Linked DNA regions of Homo sapiens: region 2 is linked to region 1. Evidence: fine-mapped QTL for protein levels in blood plasma. A gene starts in region 1. The other region holds a variant in brackets. All regions are shown on one strand. Distances are from middle to middle. Region 1 holds the start of PHYKPL (5-phosphohydroxy-L-lysine phospho-lyase). Region 2 overlaps PHYKPL (5-phosphohydroxy-L-lysine phospho-lyase).

What was found. PIP is the chance, under the fine-mapping model, that this variant and not a neighbour inherited with it causes the effect. Protein levels are from antibody-based Olink assays in UK Biobank. Linkage for the fine-mapping came from a reference panel and not from the study's own genotypes, which makes the PIPs less certain.
Region 2: its variant is fine-mapped to the plasma level of the PHYKPL protein (UK Biobank, PIP above 0.99). The variant lies in the coding sequence of PHYKPL. If it changes the protein, the assay may bind it differently, which can mimic a change of level.

Annotation. Positions count from the first base shown.
Region 1 is chr5:178,231,978-178,240,245 of GRCh38, forward strand. It overlaps PHYKPL (5-phosphohydroxy-L-lysine phospho-lyase), which reads right to left and starts at 825. Exons shown (of 13, transcript NM_153373.4): 1 at 515-825. The coding sequence starts at 573. It overlaps COL23A1 (collagen type XXIII alpha 1 chain), which reads right to left. Exons shown (of 29, transcript NM_173465.4): 28 at 7,164-7,202; 29 at 5,641-6,723. The coding sequence ends at 6,721. LOC112267937 (a long non-coding RNA gene) reads left to right here and starts at 2,061. Exons shown (of 3, transcript XR_002956238.2): 1 at 2,061-3,221; 2 at 4,439-4,623; 3 at 4,782-6,691. RefSeq lists silencers at 250-569, 650-1,059 and enhancers at 449-987, 3,035-3,114, 5,485-6,158, 6,159-6,832, 6,838-6,887.
Region 2 is chr5:178,212,167-178,220,458 of GRCh38, forward strand. It overlaps PHYKPL (5-phosphohydroxy-L-lysine phospho-lyase), which reads right to left. Exons shown (of 13, transcript NM_153373.4): 9 at 3,110-3,264; 10 at 2,630-2,719; 11 at 807-937. Among named protein-coding and RNA genes, the nearest start is that of HNRNPAB, 12 kb to the left of the region's middle. RefSeq lists an enhancer at 810-919. The variant T/C (reference allele first, on the strand shown) is at 867.

The sequences.
Region 1 (8,268 bases):
TCCAGTGGGAGGCGACCTCACCCACCGTCCCACCGAGGGCCCCCTCACAGGTCAAGTGTGCTGCCTGTGAACCGACTCCCCCGACTCTCCCTTGTCTGCCCTTTCAGCCCCCTCCCAGGTCACTCTCGAGCCAGGCCCAGGTGCTGCTGACGGGCCACCCTGGGTGAGGTCCTCTCAGGCGCCAGGGTGAAGGTCTTCTCCGGAGTAAAGGCTGCCAAGCGAGGCTGACACAGCCGAACAGCGGTGAGGGCGGGGCCGTCTCCTGAACTGGGCGGCCTGGAGACGGCGCTGTCGGGGAGGCGGCCCCGGAGACCACCCGCCGGGACTGCCCAACGGCGCCGCCCGCCTCGGGCCCTAGAAGCTCCAGCGGGGCCGGGGCAGCGGCCGGACGGGATGGGTAGCAGCGGCTTCCTAGCCGGAGGCGCGTGCGTAGTGCGTGCGTGCGTGCGTCGTGCGTGCGCGTGCCTCTCCGCGCAGCCCCGCGCCCCCCGCCGCCCGCCCCCCGCCCGGGTACCTGATGAGCCGTTGCCTCAGGGCCAGCGTGTCGGCCTTCGGGCGCTGGTCTGCGGCCATGGTGGGTGGCCGTCAGTCGGTGCCGTGACGCCACGCGGAGACGTCGCCGCGCGGGCTGGGCCTCCAAGGCCCCGCTCCGGGCCCCGCCCCTGCCTGGGTCGGGATTTGGGGCTCAGGTTCGCACTCGGCCCCGCCCCGAAGCGCCCGCGTTGCGGTGGTTCATTTCTTCGCTTGCCCACTGGGCCTGGCAGCCTTCCGGCCCGTGGTCGTGCCTTGGCAGTCCCGCGCAGGAACTCGAGCGCTGCCCCGTCTCTGGTTCCGGGACGCGCCCCGGGCCTCGCCCCGCAGGCCCCGCCCCGCAGGCCCCTGCGGCCTCCCTTCCGGGAAAGGGTCCCGGACGACCCCGCCCCTGCTCCCGGCGCCCAGGCGGGGCTCGGAGCTCCTGCAGGCCTTCTCTGGGCCAGACTCAGTCTTTGAGTCGCCTTGTGCATAAAATGGGATGAACTGTGAGGCCTAAGTGCGAGTATGTGACTGGTACCTTACCCGGGCCTGGTACACAGTAGGGGCCTCAGGGTGGGAGAAGCAGGTCCTAGGTTTTCCCAGCCCCATGAAGGGGCAGCAGGAAGAGCAGAAGGAGAGCCCAGGGTCCCTTCTGGGGCTGACCAAGGAGATCACCATGGGCTTGACCTTCAGGGCACCATAGTTCCTGCTAGAATCTAGGCAGGGTGAACCGGACGAGCTGTATCGTCGCTGAGAGAATCATGCAGCGTTTGGGCAAGAAGAGAGGTTGGGAATCCTCCTTGTGGTACATGTCGGTGACCCTGAAGCCCAGAAAGGGAAAGGGTTTTGTTGTCAGACACGCAGCAAGGCTGCAGAGGCTGGACTCCTACTGAGGTCTTCTTGACTCCCAGCCCAGGGAGTGAGAAGAAAAAGCCTCCCAAGGGGCTGGGATATGAGAGAAAAGCCCCCTCCTGGGGTGAGGCACTGGGGCTTTCTGCCTTGAAGAACCCTGGAACACGGGCCTGGGACTGCAGCAGGTGCAGGGGAGGCTCCTGATTGTCCCTTCTTTCTGTCCACATCATGATTCCCAGGCCTCTGCTTCACTCCCTCATTGCTGATTTCTTCTTCTCTTCCCAATACAGTTGTAAGATGCATAAGGCATTTATTGAACTCTTGACCTCAGATGATCTGCCTGCCTCGGCCTCCCAGAGTGCTGGGATTACAGGCCGGGTGAGCCACCGCACCCGGCCGCTTAAGGCATTTATTAAAGAACATTTGGAGTTTCTTTTTTCTTTATTGTGTAAAATATACATAACAAAATTTTACCATTTTAACCATTTTTAAGGATACAATTCAGTGGCAAAAGTACATTCACATCGTCGTGCAGCCATCACCACCATCCATGCAACAGGACTTTTTCATCTTCCCTAAAAGAATGGAATTTCTTATTTTTAACTGTAAAGCTGAATTGAATATTTTACATGATTTTTGGAAAAAATTCTTCCCAAATTAACTGCGAGGTTAACTGCTTGTGGCCTGTATTTTTTTTTTTTTTTAAAGAAAGGGTCTTATTCTGTTGTTCAGGCTGGAGTGCAGCATTGCAGTCTCTACCTCCCTGGGATCATGTGATCCTCCCATCTCAGCCTCTCAAGTACCTGCTACTACAGGTGCACGCCACCATACCCAGCCTGTACTTCGTTTCTGAGGATCAAGACCTCACAGACCGTGTGTGTGTGTGTGTATTTGTGTGTGTGTGAGTCCTATTTGGGCCCCGCCTTTCAGCCCTGTCTTGCAGCCCAAACTCCAGCCACAGCTGTGGCCCCGTGCAGCTCAGAGGAATCAGGTTGGCTCAGGGGCTTTTCCTGCTTTAAGGCAGAGGGTGAGAAGGCTGTAGCTGGGCCCGGCTAACATCTCACCTGCTCCTGGGTCAAGAGGTGATATAGTTGGAGGTCAGACCAGGTTGAGCCATTTCCTGGGCCAGGAGTATCTTATAGCATGGCACAGAACACCAGGAGGCCTCACCTTCTTCCTGCTCAGAAAAGCCCACTCCTTGTCTCTGGCCCTGTGCCAGGCACTCATCTGTCCTTTATTTCATGCCTGGCCCTCTAGGCAATGTTGGAGTCCAAGAGGGTAGGGGATGGAAGTGGCTGAGTCAGGATTTGAACCCAGGGCATGGTGTTTCTCAACAGGGTTGGCACCGGGATTCTTGTTGAGATGATTTGTCACTGGGTAGGACTGTCCTATGCATTTTAGGTGTTTGCTATCCCTGGCCCTGTCCCCTGAATGCCCAGGTGTCCTGCAATCATTGTGCTAACCAGAAGCATCCCATGTATTCCTAGTGGTCTCCTAGGGACCAGGAGGAAAGAGACCTGGTAAGTCCCCTTCACATTCATCTATAAAAAGGGATCGTCATCCTTGTGGTTAGTTTAGCTGTCATGGGACACAGCAGGACTCAGTAAATGTACTTCTCTCTCTTCCAGAAAGGGGTACTTTGAGGCTGTACTGCCTTTCTTGGCAGGAGGCCTGAGGCCCCCCAGTCCTTGAGTCTCAGCTGTGAAGCAGGGTGCTCCCCAGTGTCTCGGCTGGGACCTTGAACAAATCATTGAACCCTCTACCGCCTCTGTGCTCTCCCCGGGCACTTTGAGGACTCAGCCGACTCTACATTTTTAAGCTTGCAGTTGAAACGTTTGCAGCCATCGGGATACAAGGTATGAGACCGCAAGGGGGCAGCAGTGGGCCAAGAATGCCCCATCCTGCCTAAAGGAGCAGGAGAGACCCCCTCAGAAGACTGGGGAAGTGGGGGGAACACATGGCTTCTACCCCACGAGGATCTACCTGCCAATCACACAGCATCATGGAGCTGCCTATCAGATTCCATGCTCTGCCAGACAAGTTTCAGAAGGACGTATTAGAGGACAAACCCAAGAGCCTAGGTGCAGTCCCAAGCCTGCCACTATGTCCTGGCTGTGCATCCCTGGCCAGGTGACTACCCTCTCTGAGCCTCAGTGTTCCCCTATGTAAAATGGGCATATCGACACCTATCACACAAGCCCTGGGCTTCGCAGGGCTGGTGAGGGGATCAAGTGAGGTTCCTGGATGGAGGAAGGAGGGAACTGTGAAGTGTAGCATGCAGATGGTGAGGTTATGCTGGAACTCCAGAGGCGGCATGGACACCCAGTGACCTCCATCAGTCATCACAGCCCCACTGTGTTTCTCTTCCTTTTCCCACTACTGGCTTCCCTGTTGACCCAGACAACTGGCTGAGCGATGTGACCTTCCACTTATTGCCAGTTCCTTAGGGAGACAGAGGAGGGGACTGGATATATCTCTCCCTCCTTAGCCAGTGTGTGGCCGAGCCTCTTCTGCTTAGCAAGGCCATGTCACAGAAGTCTGAGGGTGACCACCCATACTGTGGCCTGCCCTAGGCTTCAGTCCTTGGAGACTCAGACACCATCAGTGCAATGCACCACCACCATCAGAGACACCATCACTGCAGGCCCTTTTTTTTTTTTTTTTTTTTTTTGAGACGGAGTTTCGCTCTTGTTGCCCAGGCTGGAGGGCAATGGTGCGACATCAGCTCACCACAACCTCTACCTCCTGGTTTCAAGCGATTCTTCTGCCTCAGCCTCCCGAGTAGCTGGGATTACAGGCATGCACCACCACCCACCTAATTTACAGGCATTACAGGATTACAGGATTACAGGCATGCACCACCCAGCTAATTTTGTATTTTTAGTAGAGACGGGGTTTCTCCGTGTTGGTCAGGCTAGTCTCGAACTCTCAACCTCAGGTAATCTGCCCGCCTCAGCCACCCCAAGTGCTGGGATTATAGGCGTGAGCCACCGCGCCCGGCCCATGGCCCTTCTTGCCTAGACCACCCTGGATGTGCTTGGTTTTGTCATCTGTAAGACGGTCCCTCTCTTAGTTGTTATAGGGACCAGCTGTGATGACAGAAGTGGGAACACTTTGCAGGACTGTGGCTGTTGCTCAGCAGCCTTGGAGTCAGGAGGAGAGATGAAAATCAGAATTGAGGGTGCTTCTGGGTGAGGGACACACCCTATACTCTTCGCATACTCTGCACTGGATCCTCACGGAACCACAATCTGAGTGGTAAGTAGTGCCCTCTCGTTTCACAGCTGAGGTGGCAGTTTGCATTTTTTCAGAGGGCTGCAACAAGATCTACGATTCCGCATTTTCTCTTTGAAATATGATGTTGACACTTTCCCGTGGAGAGGTGGGGTCTAACTCTCCTCCCTCCACTCTTTCAGAAAGTGACACCACATGACTTCTGAGACTTGGCCCTAAAAGGTGACACAGCTTCCAACTGGCTGACCTGGGACAGTCACTTTTGGAATCCAGCCACCATGTGGGAGGCAGCCTGGGTCACGTGGAGAGGCCACAAATAAGTATTTGCCATCTGAGGTCCCTGCTATAGCCATAAGCAACCATGTGAGAGTCGGAGTGAGAAGCACCCACACTGAGCCCATTAACCACAGACTGCACAAGAGAAATCAAAATGATTTTCTTTCTTTTTTTTTAAAGAGAGGAATTTCTCTATGTTGCTCAGGCTGATCTTTAACTTCTGGGCTCAGGCAGTCCTCCCGCTTCAGCCTGCCCAGCAGCTAGGACCACAGGCACACATCAACCCACCCTACTAATGTTTTTTAATTCTTTACTTTTGGTAGAGATGGAGTTTCACCATGCTGCCAGCCTGGTCTCGAACTCCTGGGCTCAAGTGATCCTCCCACCTTGCCCTCCCAAAGTATTGGGATTAAAAGAATGAGCCACTGTGTCTGGCCAAAATCGCCATTGTTTTAAGGCAACAAGTTTTGGAGAGATTTGTTATGCAGCAGTCTGCTAACCGCAATAGAGGAGCACACAGGGGCTCAATTTGACAGGTAGTGACTTGCCAGAGGACTCAGCTGATGTGTGGCAGGACCAGGCAGTGAATCTGTGTCTTCCGAACTCCAAATCCCATCTTTGCCCTGACCCTGAACTTCCTCCTTTGGTTTCTGGGATGGCTCTTACTCAGGGAGGGTCCCCTTTTCCCTCCCCACCCAGCAGTGGCCAGGATGAAACCACAGCCAGAGGTGCCCCAGGGGCAGTCCACAAGGACAGGCACACCCAGACACGCACTTGTGGTTTATTACACACAGTGATCTCCATCTACACGGAAATGGAAGGCAAGCAGCCAGGATGGAGCTGGTTGCTGGGAACACTTGCTGGAGGTGGAAAAGCCTCTCGTCAGAGCGTGGGTGGGTCTGGTGGCAGGCCCCCTGCTCAGGCCAGCTGGGAACCAGCCCTGAGCTTTGCTTTGCCTGCACAGCCCACCTAGAGAGCCATTTTTGGCCAGAGTTCTGGGTGGGAGACTTGGGGCCAGTGAGACCCAGACTCTGAGTGGGAGGCCTGCCTCCCTGGTCCAGGCCATGTCCTATCTTGTCCCTCTCTGGGTGATAATGGAAACAGAGACAGGAAGTAGCAGTCAGTCCAGGCTGGGCCCCTCCATCCTCGACACTCTGCTCCCTGGAGCTGGGTCCACATCACAGCGATCACAGAGCTCAGCCACTACTCCTGGCCAGAGGACATGTGCTCTCATGGCAGGCTGGCCTCCTGAGGCCTCCTGAATGTGGTAGAGCTAGACCCTCGTGGGGGATTTCCACTCACTGCTCCCCGGGCCCAGCCGCAAGTGCTGGGCGAGTCTTGTCCGGGGGCCAAGTCTTGTCCAACTGCAGAGGCAGCTGGTTGTGGTTGAGTTTGGAGGCTGATGAGGCCAGGAGCAACAGCAGCCGCTGTTCCACCCCTGGGTCTTCTTGGATAGGGTGTGTCCCAGGGACTCCAGAGTTTTGCGGGGGCAGGTTCTTACAGGGCAGTACCACAGCTGAGAGTCTCTCTGCTGATCAGGTGACTGAAGGCCCAACGTAGCATCTTTCTAGCCTTGCCCGAGCCAGGTGCTTCTACCTTCATCTCCTTCCTGGGAAAGCCCAGGCCCAAGGGTGCCCCTCAGGTACACATCTCCCTGGTCTGGCCTGTCCACTTTCCGGCAGCTTCACATGCCGGTGGCTTTGGGGCTGGGTGGGCATACTCTTGAATGTTAAAAGGCCACAGGTAGCGCATTCCATGAAAAAAGATCAATATATTACTGTTTTGTTTTTACAAAAATTAAAAATGTCCACACGGATCTGTACAGGTGTGAGCTGGGCCTGTGGGTCACTGGAAAAGGAGGAAGAGACTGAAGGTGACGAGGAGCCCGAGAAGCTCCGCCCCCATCCAGGCCACCTTGCCTGGCCTCCCCGGTCCTGCCCATTTCCTCCTATCTTCCCTCCCCCCACTCCCTCTCAGTGGGCCAGTTGGGACAATATCCCAGGGGGCACTGATGGCTTTGCCCTGCCTGGTCCAGGTGTCAGTTGAGTCCATGTGACCCACAGGATGGGTTATACACCATCACCCAGGACCACAGCCCCACGCCTCACATGCAAGATGGGAGAGTCAAAACCAGGGTCATGATGGGAAACCTGGCTATTCAGTCACTGTGCGAGAAGCCGCAGACACCCAGAGGTTTGAGTGACAGCACCCAGGCTCTGGGGCCCTCCCATTCCCCCACCCTCCCCTGCCTCTCCCAAGCCTGCCCTGGAGACTTCCCTGCACGGTACCTTATGCCAGCAGCCAGGCACAGGCAGCCCGTCGGGGCCCTGGAAAGGAAGAAGGTTTCAGTGATGGGGATGGGGCCTGGGGAGCTCCTCTACACCCCACATGCCCTCCCCTGGTCTGTAGGGAGGTGCAGGCCAGGGAGCGGCCATGTGAGACTGCTGGGCCCCACTGAGGCAGGGGCACAATGCCTCCTCTGTCCACCCAGGTAGTGGGGTCATGGGGTCATGGGGAACGACGGCCTCTCACTGAGCTTGTCCTGAGTGTGTTCCCTCTGTGCTTTGTGGGGACTGCTGTGCAGTGGGCAGGAACAGGAGGGCACTAGGAAGGGATGAGCATTGTGCCAGACATGTACAGGCTGGCCTGGGTCCTGCCGAGAGCCGTGTGGCTTCCTGTCTGATGTGACAGTGACTCTGGCCTGGGTCCTGCCGAGAGCCGTGTGGCTTCCTGCCTGATGTGACACTGACTCTGGCCTGGGTCCTGCCGAGAGCCGTGTGGCTTCCTGCCTGATGTGACACTGACTCTGGCCTGGGTCCTGCCGAGAGCCGTGTGGCTTCCTGCCTGATGTGACACTGACTCTGGCCTGGGTCCTGCCGAGAGCCGTGTGGCTTCCTGCCTGATGTGACAGTGACTCTGGCCTGGGTCCTGCCGAGAGCCGTGTGGCTTCCTGCCTGATGTGACAGTGACTCTGGCCTGGGTCCTGCCGAGAGCCGTGTGGCTTCCTGTCTGATGTGACAGTGACTCTGGCCTGGGTCCTGCTGAGAGCCGTGTGGCTTCCTGCCTGATGTGACGGTCACTCTGGCTCCTCACCCTGGGGCCTGCGAGCTTTCAGGCCTTGGGCAGGAATGGCTCCTGGAGGGTTTTAAGGATGGCCCAGGAATTGGCATCCTGCTCCAGCCTGTGCTGGCTGGAGCAGGGCAGGCTCAGGTTGCTGGGGGTTGGGGCTGGGCCTGGGGTAGGGCTATCTAGCGGCACCTGTGGTGCCCACCCAGGAGCCAGACATAAGCAGGGGCCGGGTTTCCTCAGGCAGCCTGGAGGGTGGGGAAACTGGAGAGGAACGAAGACTGACTCATCAGGGACACCAAGGCGCAAAACATGTCATTCTGTTCC
Region 2 (8,292 bases), 20 kb before region 1:
GGCTCTGTCCAGGATCCCTAAGCCTGTTCTGTGGCCAGCCTTTGCTCTCCACAAACACACTCCTATTCATCATATCCCTACCACTTCCAATTTGTGTCTAGCAGGGATGGGCCTCCCCCAGCTCCAGAGCCCTGGGATTAAGCATACCTGTGGGTAGCAGTGATCACCCAGAGGTAGGAGGGCACAGGTTGCTTGGCTGGCAGTTGTGATCTCTACTGTGAGATGCAACTGTGCCTATTTAGGGTCTCACTGAGCTGTAAATGGCAACACAGCCATGAGATTTCCTTGTAAGTGGATTTAGGGGGAACCCTGGGTTGACCACGACCATCCTAGGTGATGGGGAATGTGGGGTAGAGTTTTCATTTTGAGTTCCGTCAGTCCTCAGTGGTACCAATCTTTCAGCCACCCAGCAGCCTTGTGTGACCTGTCTCATGTACAGAATGAAACTCCTGCCATCTCTACATCCTAGGCTGGCGGTAATGGGGTCTCAACTCCCACTGTAGTTCTTATGGCCTGTTTCTCAGGCCCAGTACTGCTTTGTCCTGCATACATCTGATGCCTGCTCAGGCAGGCTGGGTGGTGGCTCACCTTCCACCTCCTGACAGCCCAGGAAGCTCTCTTAGGTACAGGCAGGAATAGGAGCAGATTGGGCCATGAAAGACCCTCTCTTGCTCCCTGCCCTGTCCAGAGGACATGTGCCTCTGCTCTTGGACTCTTGTCCCCTCCCTGTTCCATGCTAGGAGGCTCTAGTTGCTGGCTTCAGGCTGAGTTCTAGAGATATGGCCAAGCTCAGGCTTCAAGCTCACCAGTCAGAATGGCATCCAGCTTTGCCACCACCTGCCGTGCATTGTCCAGGCTGAAGCACA[T/C]TGGGGGCTTAAACTTCAGGATGTTCCTCCCAGGGCCATCAGTGCTCAGCAAAACGTAGTTCTCCTTCAGCCTGTGAGGACAGGACACCCCTTCACATGGCCTTCAAGGCCTTCCTCAGCCTGGCCTTGGCCTCATGTCCAGTGCTCCAGCCACACTGTCCTCAGAGCCTTCCATGGGCCAGTTCCTGCCAGGTCATTTTACTGGTCACCTCTCCCAGAGTCCTGTGCATCTGGCCCACAGCAGCCTGCTTGGAGTGCACTGCACCTGGCCCTGAGCCTGCTGCCCCACAGAACAGGCACCTTGCCTCACCTAACCCTGGAGCCACAGTCCAAGCCAAGAATGAATGGCCACAGGGAAACGCCAGACTGCAAGAGTCACCTGCATTCTCTGGTTTTCTGTGTGGTTTACGTGATGTATATTGTTTCCTTATATAGAGAATGTCCAACATTGCAGTTGGTGTAATGAGCTCCACGTGCCCCTCACCAGCTTCAGGCATCTTCCTGCCCTGTCTTCCGGGTTATCTTACAATTCCAGTTTAAAATGTCCAATTATTCTTAGGAAGATGGCTTTATCTTAACATCATTTGTAGCTAATAATCACTTTTAGTCCACAGTCTAACCTCATCTCTGAGATGAGGGGTCTGCATGATTGTGTTTATATTCTTTGATCATTGTTCCCCTTCTTTTGTAAACCTTGTTATTTTTATTTCTTGGGGGTGGGGAGTGTGCCTTCTGGTTTCATTTTCCTGTCCCAGTCTTCCTGGCACTGACCATGGCCACGCCAGAAAGAACAGGGCTTGGACTTTGGAGTTAGACGGCCCTGGGGCCAGATCTAGCTCTTGCCACCTAGCAGGGTAACTGCAGGTGACTTACCCATTTCCTCACTGAACTGGAAAAGCACCCCCAGGGTATTGTGAGACACGGGCTGAACTTGGGATCTGTTTCCTTCCATGCCACCTGACCATTCCGAATCCCTGAGGCTCCTGGGAGGGGGGTAGGAGTAAGCTGGGGATGTGACTGACAGCAGAGAGAAGGCGGGACCAGGAAAGGCCAAGTTCAAATACAGCACAGAGATTTACATCAATACCACGCGTGTCTCACAATTTGAATAAGGACACGTCAAATACCAGAAGAGCTTTCCATGGTGGGCGTGGGGGAAGGGGTAGGCCTGGGGAATGGAGATAAAAGGGAATAACAATTCAACTAGAAGGAGAAGAAGTCCTGAGGACTTGGGGTCCAAGTGAAAGGACAAGCAAACCAGGGCATTGGGACCGGTGGAGTCTGAGTTCTGAGACACCCCCGACCCAGCTTAGGAGCAGGAGTCTTGTCCATCCCAACCACCTGTCGTGCGGCATGGGAACCCTGAGTCTAGTGCTGCCACAGCTCCCTGGTATGAATAGAGAAGGTGTTTCCCTTCTCCAGGCCAAGGTGGCATTAGGGGTTCCTGGGTCTGAGTGCCCTGCTAGCTTGGGCATTCTAGGCAGAGGTGCTGCTCTGGTCTGGGAATAGCCTGTGTCTCATCTGCAGCCTTTGTAGTCAGGCACTGGGTACAGAACTGCTAACACCACTTATCTCTGTCCTCAGCTGATAGGATCAGCTGTCCCCCAACAACTGCCCCCACCCGCCAGCCCCAGCCCTCTTTCAATCAAGTCTGTGGCCCAGAGTGCTGGGGGTACAGATGAGGCTCCTTTCCACTGGCCCTGCAAAGAGGTACCTGTGGTGTCTCCTACTCCAGGAAGCAACTTGTTTCAAGAAGAAAATACCTTGATACCAAGTAGGCAGCCTCTTCAGTTGCTGGTGTCCTTGTGGCCTCATCTTTGATCAGATCCACACCAATGAAGAGCCCAACACCCCTGCAAGGGAAGGTGACGACATCTCAGGAGGCCAGGCCTGAGGGGCCAGGGTGCTGGCCTCAGCCTCTGGGCTCCTACCTGTGCCTCCTGAGGGGGCTGAGTGCAGGAGGCACCTTCAGAAGGTGGTGAGAATAGTTTCAGGGAATAACTGGGCTGGGAGAGATCTTTGGTGTGGACAGAGGAGAGAGGCTCAGGGGTAGCTAGGGATCAGGTCATGTCCTAGCTTTCTCCTCCCCAGGAGAGCCGTTTTGGGCAATAGCACCTCTCAGTGTCTCAGTTCCTCTTGAGAGCGGACATAACCCCACCATCCCAGGTTGTTAGGAGGTGAAGAAAATGGTACCACACTGGGCCTTGGCAGGTGGGTGGTGACTGCTGCCCCCAGAGCCTCACCTGACATCCCCGACGATGGGATGTTTGATTTTTTGCTGCCCGAGGAGCTGCATCAGGAAGCTGCCTACACTGGTGGCATGATCCTGGAGCTGCTCCTTCTCCAAGACATTCAGGACGGCCAGCCCCACAGCGCAGGACACTGGGCTGCCCCCAAACTGAGCCAGGGACAAAGAACATGTCAGATGCCCTGGCAGAGTGGGCCATGCCCCAGAGTGAGGGTGAGGCAGAAGAACTGCCACACGTGTTCCAAGGCCAGTGGCAAGAGCAGAGGCCCCAAACCCCTTAGGGCGCACAGTCCTCAGCAGTAGTAAGTGGGGTTCAACATGGGCTGTCCTGGCTTTCCAGGAGCTAATGTGACTGCAACTCAGGTCAGGTATCCCTGAAGTACAGTAGGAGCCCCTAGAAGATACAGAATCAGAGGAGAGGGTGTCCTGTTTGTTCCCACAGGGCTAGTCTTTACCAAGAGAGGCTTTAAGGCCCCATCTCCTGGGCCCAGACCCAGAGGACTGGATTAGGCACTTCCTCCTCCAGGGAGAGTGAGCGCAGCACGCCAAGCCCCACCCAGGAAAAGCTGCTTCACACCCCTGGAGGGCTCTGGCTCCTTTCCCTCGCCCACCCTGTCCTCATCCTGCAGGTATCTGAGTGGAGACCTGTGTTTTAGAGGATCACGAGCAAGGTGTCTCCTGCAAACCACGTTTTTTGTTTCGTTTTTAAACTACATCTTTAAAAACATCAGCTTTGTTGAGGTATAATTTATATATAAACTGTGTTTAAAGTATAAAGTTCAACGTGAGGTGACAAATGTATGTACCTGTGTAACCTCCCTCGCAGTGAAGTTGCAGAACATTTTCATCACTTCCTGTGCAACCGTCCCGCTACTACTGGACCCAGGCATCCACTGATCTGCTTTCTGTTACTATGAGATGGCTACAGGGGGCTTTGAAAGGCTGTGACGTACTCCTGGGAGTCTAGAAGGCCATTCATATGCATAGGGATGTGCTTATGCCCAGTGCTGTGTGCATGCTCAGGTAAGATCTAGAAAGCCCTAAGCTCTCACCACTGGCTACCTTGAGCCTCTGCAGAATGAGGAAGTAAAGTCTAAGGCAGTTATAAACTCTTGGCTGAGTGACTTACGGGTTCCAGGCAATTAAGGAGATCTAATGGTTAGAGGACCACTAAGCTAATCAAGCAGAGACTATAGTGGCCACACATGACAAAGAACACAACTTTACATAATTAGTTCAGAAAAGACATTAAACAAGAAAAAGGAACCACCATGGGGAGGGAGGAGAATATGATTTCCACAGTTGCCACATTATGTTACTTAAAATGTCCAGCTTTTAACAAAATTCTGAAACATGCAAAGAAGCATGGCCCAGACACGGGAGGAAAAAAAGCAATCAATGCAAACTGCGCCCGAGGAAGCTGACACTGACCTTACTGGATAAAGACTTTAAATCAGATGTTACAAACATGTTAGCTGGGTGCAGTGGCCCATGCCTGTAATCCCAGCACTTTGGGAGGCCAAGATGGGTGAGTTGCCTAAGGTGAGGAGTTCGAGACCAGCCTGGGCAGCATGGTGAAACCCCATCTCTACAAAAAATAAAAATAGCCAGGCGTGGTGGCACATGTGTGTACTCCCAGCTGCTTGCGGGGTGAGGCAGGAGGATCACTTGAGCTCCAGAGGCTGAAGCTGCAGTGAGCCAAGACTCCAGCCTGGGCAACAGAGTGAGACCCTGTATCCAAACAAGCAAACAGAAACAACCCCAAAACCAAATATGTTAAGAGACCTAAAGGAAACTATACTTAAAAAATTGAAAGCAAAGCATGAAAATGATGTCTTACCAAAACAGAGTCTAATGATAGATAAATTATTAAAAATCAATCAGAAAATTTGAAGTTGATAAGCACAATAAATGAAATGAAGCATTTACTAGAGAGGCTCAACAGATTTTTTTTTTTTTTTTGAGACAGTCTCGCTGTCACCCAGGATGGAGTGCAGTGGTGCGATCTCAGCAAACTGCAGCTGCCGCCTCCCAGGTTCAGGCGATTCTGGTGCTTCAGCCTCCCAACTAGCTGGGACTATAGGTGCATGCCACCACATCTGGCTAATTTTTGTATTTTTAGTAGAGACGGAGTTTCACTGTGTTGGCCAGGCTGGTCTTAAACCCGGGACCTCAAGTGATCCGCCCACCTCAGCCTCCCAAAGTGCTAGGAAATTACAGGCGTGAGCCACTGCACCTGGCAACAGCAGATTTAAGCCGGCAGATGAAAGAATCAGTGAAAAAAAAAAAAAAAGTCAGCCGGCCGCGGTGACTCACACCTGTAATCCCCGCACTTTGGGAGGCTGAGGCGGGTGGATCATGAGGTCAGGAGATCGAGACCATCCTGGCTAACATGGTGAAACCCCGTCTGTACTAAAAATACAAAAGATTAGCTGGGCATCATGGCGGGCGCCTGTAATCACAGCTACTCGGGAGGCTGAGGCAGGAGAATGGCGTGAACCCGGGAGGCAGAGCTTGCAGTGAGCCGAGATCACACCACTGCACTCCAGCCTGGGCGACAGAGCGAGACTCCGTCTCAGAAAAAAAAAAAAAAAGTCAATTGAGATTGTCCAGTCTGAAGACCAGAAAGAAAAAGGAATAAAGAAAAACAGTCATGTCTGGGCGCGGTGGCTCACGCCTGTAATCCCAGCACTTTGGGAGGCCGAGACGGGCGGATCACGAGGTCAGGAGATCGAGACCATCCTGGCTAACACGGTGAAACCCCGTCTCTACTAAAAAATACAAAAATTAGCCGGGCGTGGTAGCGGGCGCCTGTAGTCCCAGCTACTCGGGAGGCTGAGGCAGGAGAATGGCATGAACCCGGGAGGCGGAGCTTGCAGTGAGTCGAGATCGCGCCACTGCACTCCAGCCTGGGTGACAGAGCGAAACTCCGTCTCAAAAAAAAAAAAAAAAAAAAAAGAAAGAAAAGAAAAACAGTCATATAGACCCAAGGACACAAGCATACCAACATGCAAATGACTGTCCCAGAAGGAGAGGAAAGGGGCAGAACAAATATGAAAACGTTAAAAACCCTATGTAACTTGCAGTGAATTGAATGTTTGTGTCTCTCCCAATTCATGTGTTGAAATCCTAACCTCCAATGTGATGGTATTAAGAGGTGGGGCCTTTAGGTTATTAGGTCACAAGAATAGAGCCTTCATGAATGCGAATATGGTTTTCTAAAAGAGATCCCAGGGAGTGCTCACCCTTTCGACAATATGAGGTACAGCGAGAAGCTGGCTGTCAGCAACCCGGAAGAGGACTCTCACCAGAACCCCAACCATGCTGGTGCCCTGATCTTAGATTTGCAGCCTTCAGAACAGTGAGAAATCTGTTTATAACCCACCCAGTCTATGGTATTTTGTTATAGTTATAGCATCTTGAACTCACTAAAACATAACTTTTAAAGAAGTTAAAGCAGCAGTTAAATATCTTCCCACAAAACACAAGGCCCAGATGGCTTTATAGGTGAGTTTTTACCTTCAAAGGACAGATCATCCCAATTTTATGTAAAAGAAAAAGAAGAAATATTTCCCAATTTATTCTATAAGGTTAGTAGGACCCAGTTACCAAAACCCAAGGTATAAGAAAAAAATTTGAGCCAACATTTTACTCCTGAAAACAGAGCAAGACTCCGTCTCAAAAAACAAAAAAAAGTAAAGGAAAACACTGTAGTATGACATGCACAAAGGATGTAATTGGATTCCTGATTCACATCGTGTACAAAAATAAACTCCAGATGGATTAAGGACCTATATGTCAAAACAAAATGTTAAAAGACTTAAGAGGAAACATAAATGAATATATTTTATAACTTGGAGTAGGGAGAGATATCTTAAACAATATATGAAAAACACCGTCTATAAAACAAAATGATAAGAGTTGACAATGTTAAAATTTAAAACTTTATAAATATGTAAAGGGAGTGAAGACAGGTTATAAACTGGATGAACATATTCACAAATACACAATAGACAAGGGATTAGCATAATAGATATGTATGTGTTGGTATATACACACACACACAGACACACACACATACAAACAGACACAAAACTCCCACAAATAAAATTAAGCACTGGTAACTCAATAAAAAAAAAATGGGCAAAAGACACAAAAGACACAAATAGGCATTTTTTTTTTTTTTTCTTTGAGATGGAGTCTCTGTCGCCCAGGCTGGAGTGCAGTGGCGCAATCTCGGCTCACTGCAAGCTCCGCCTCCCGGGTTCACGCCATTCTCCTGCCTCAGCCTCCCGAGTAGCTGGGACTACAGGTGCCCGCCACCACGCCCGGCTAATTTTTTCTATTTTTCAGTAGAGATGGGGTTTCACCGTGTTAGCCAGGATGGTCTCGATCTCCTGACCTCGTGATCTGCCCACCTCGGCTTCCCAAAGTGCTGGGATTACAGGCGTGAGCCACCGCACCCGACCACAAATGGGCATTTCATTGAAGAGCAAACAAATGGTCAATAAACATATGAAGAGATACTTCACGTAATCTGAAATCAGGGAATGGCATATCAAGACCATACAAGCTACTGTTTTACGCTCCACTTGACTGGCAAAAATTAAAAGGCACTGAAGAAGATATAGGCCGGGTGCAGTGGCTCATGCCTTGTAATCCCAGCATTTTGGGAGGCCGAGGTGGGCCGATCGCTTGAGCTCAGGAGTTTGAGACCAGCCTGGGCAACATGGTGAAACTCCATCTGTACCAAAAATACAAAAAATTAGCTGGGCATGGTAGCATGCACCGGTGGTCCCAGGTACTTGGCAGGCTGAAGTGGGGGGATCACTTGAGCTCTGGAAGTAAAGGCTGCAGTGAGCTGAGATCGCGTCACTGCACTCCAGCCTGGGTGACAGAGTGAGACCCCGTTTCAAAAAAAAAAAAAAAAAAAGAATGCCGGATGCAGTGGCTCATGCCTGTAATCCCAGTGCTTTGGGAGGCTGAGGCGGGCGGATTACCTGAGGTCAGGAGTTCAAGAGCAGCCTGACCAACATGGAGAAACCCCATCTCTACTAAAAATACAAAATTACCCAGGTGTGGCGCATGCCTGTAATCCCAGCTACTGGGGAGGTTGAGGCAGGAGAGTTGCTTGAACCCAGGAGGCAGAGGTTGCAGTGAGCCGAGATCGCGCCACAG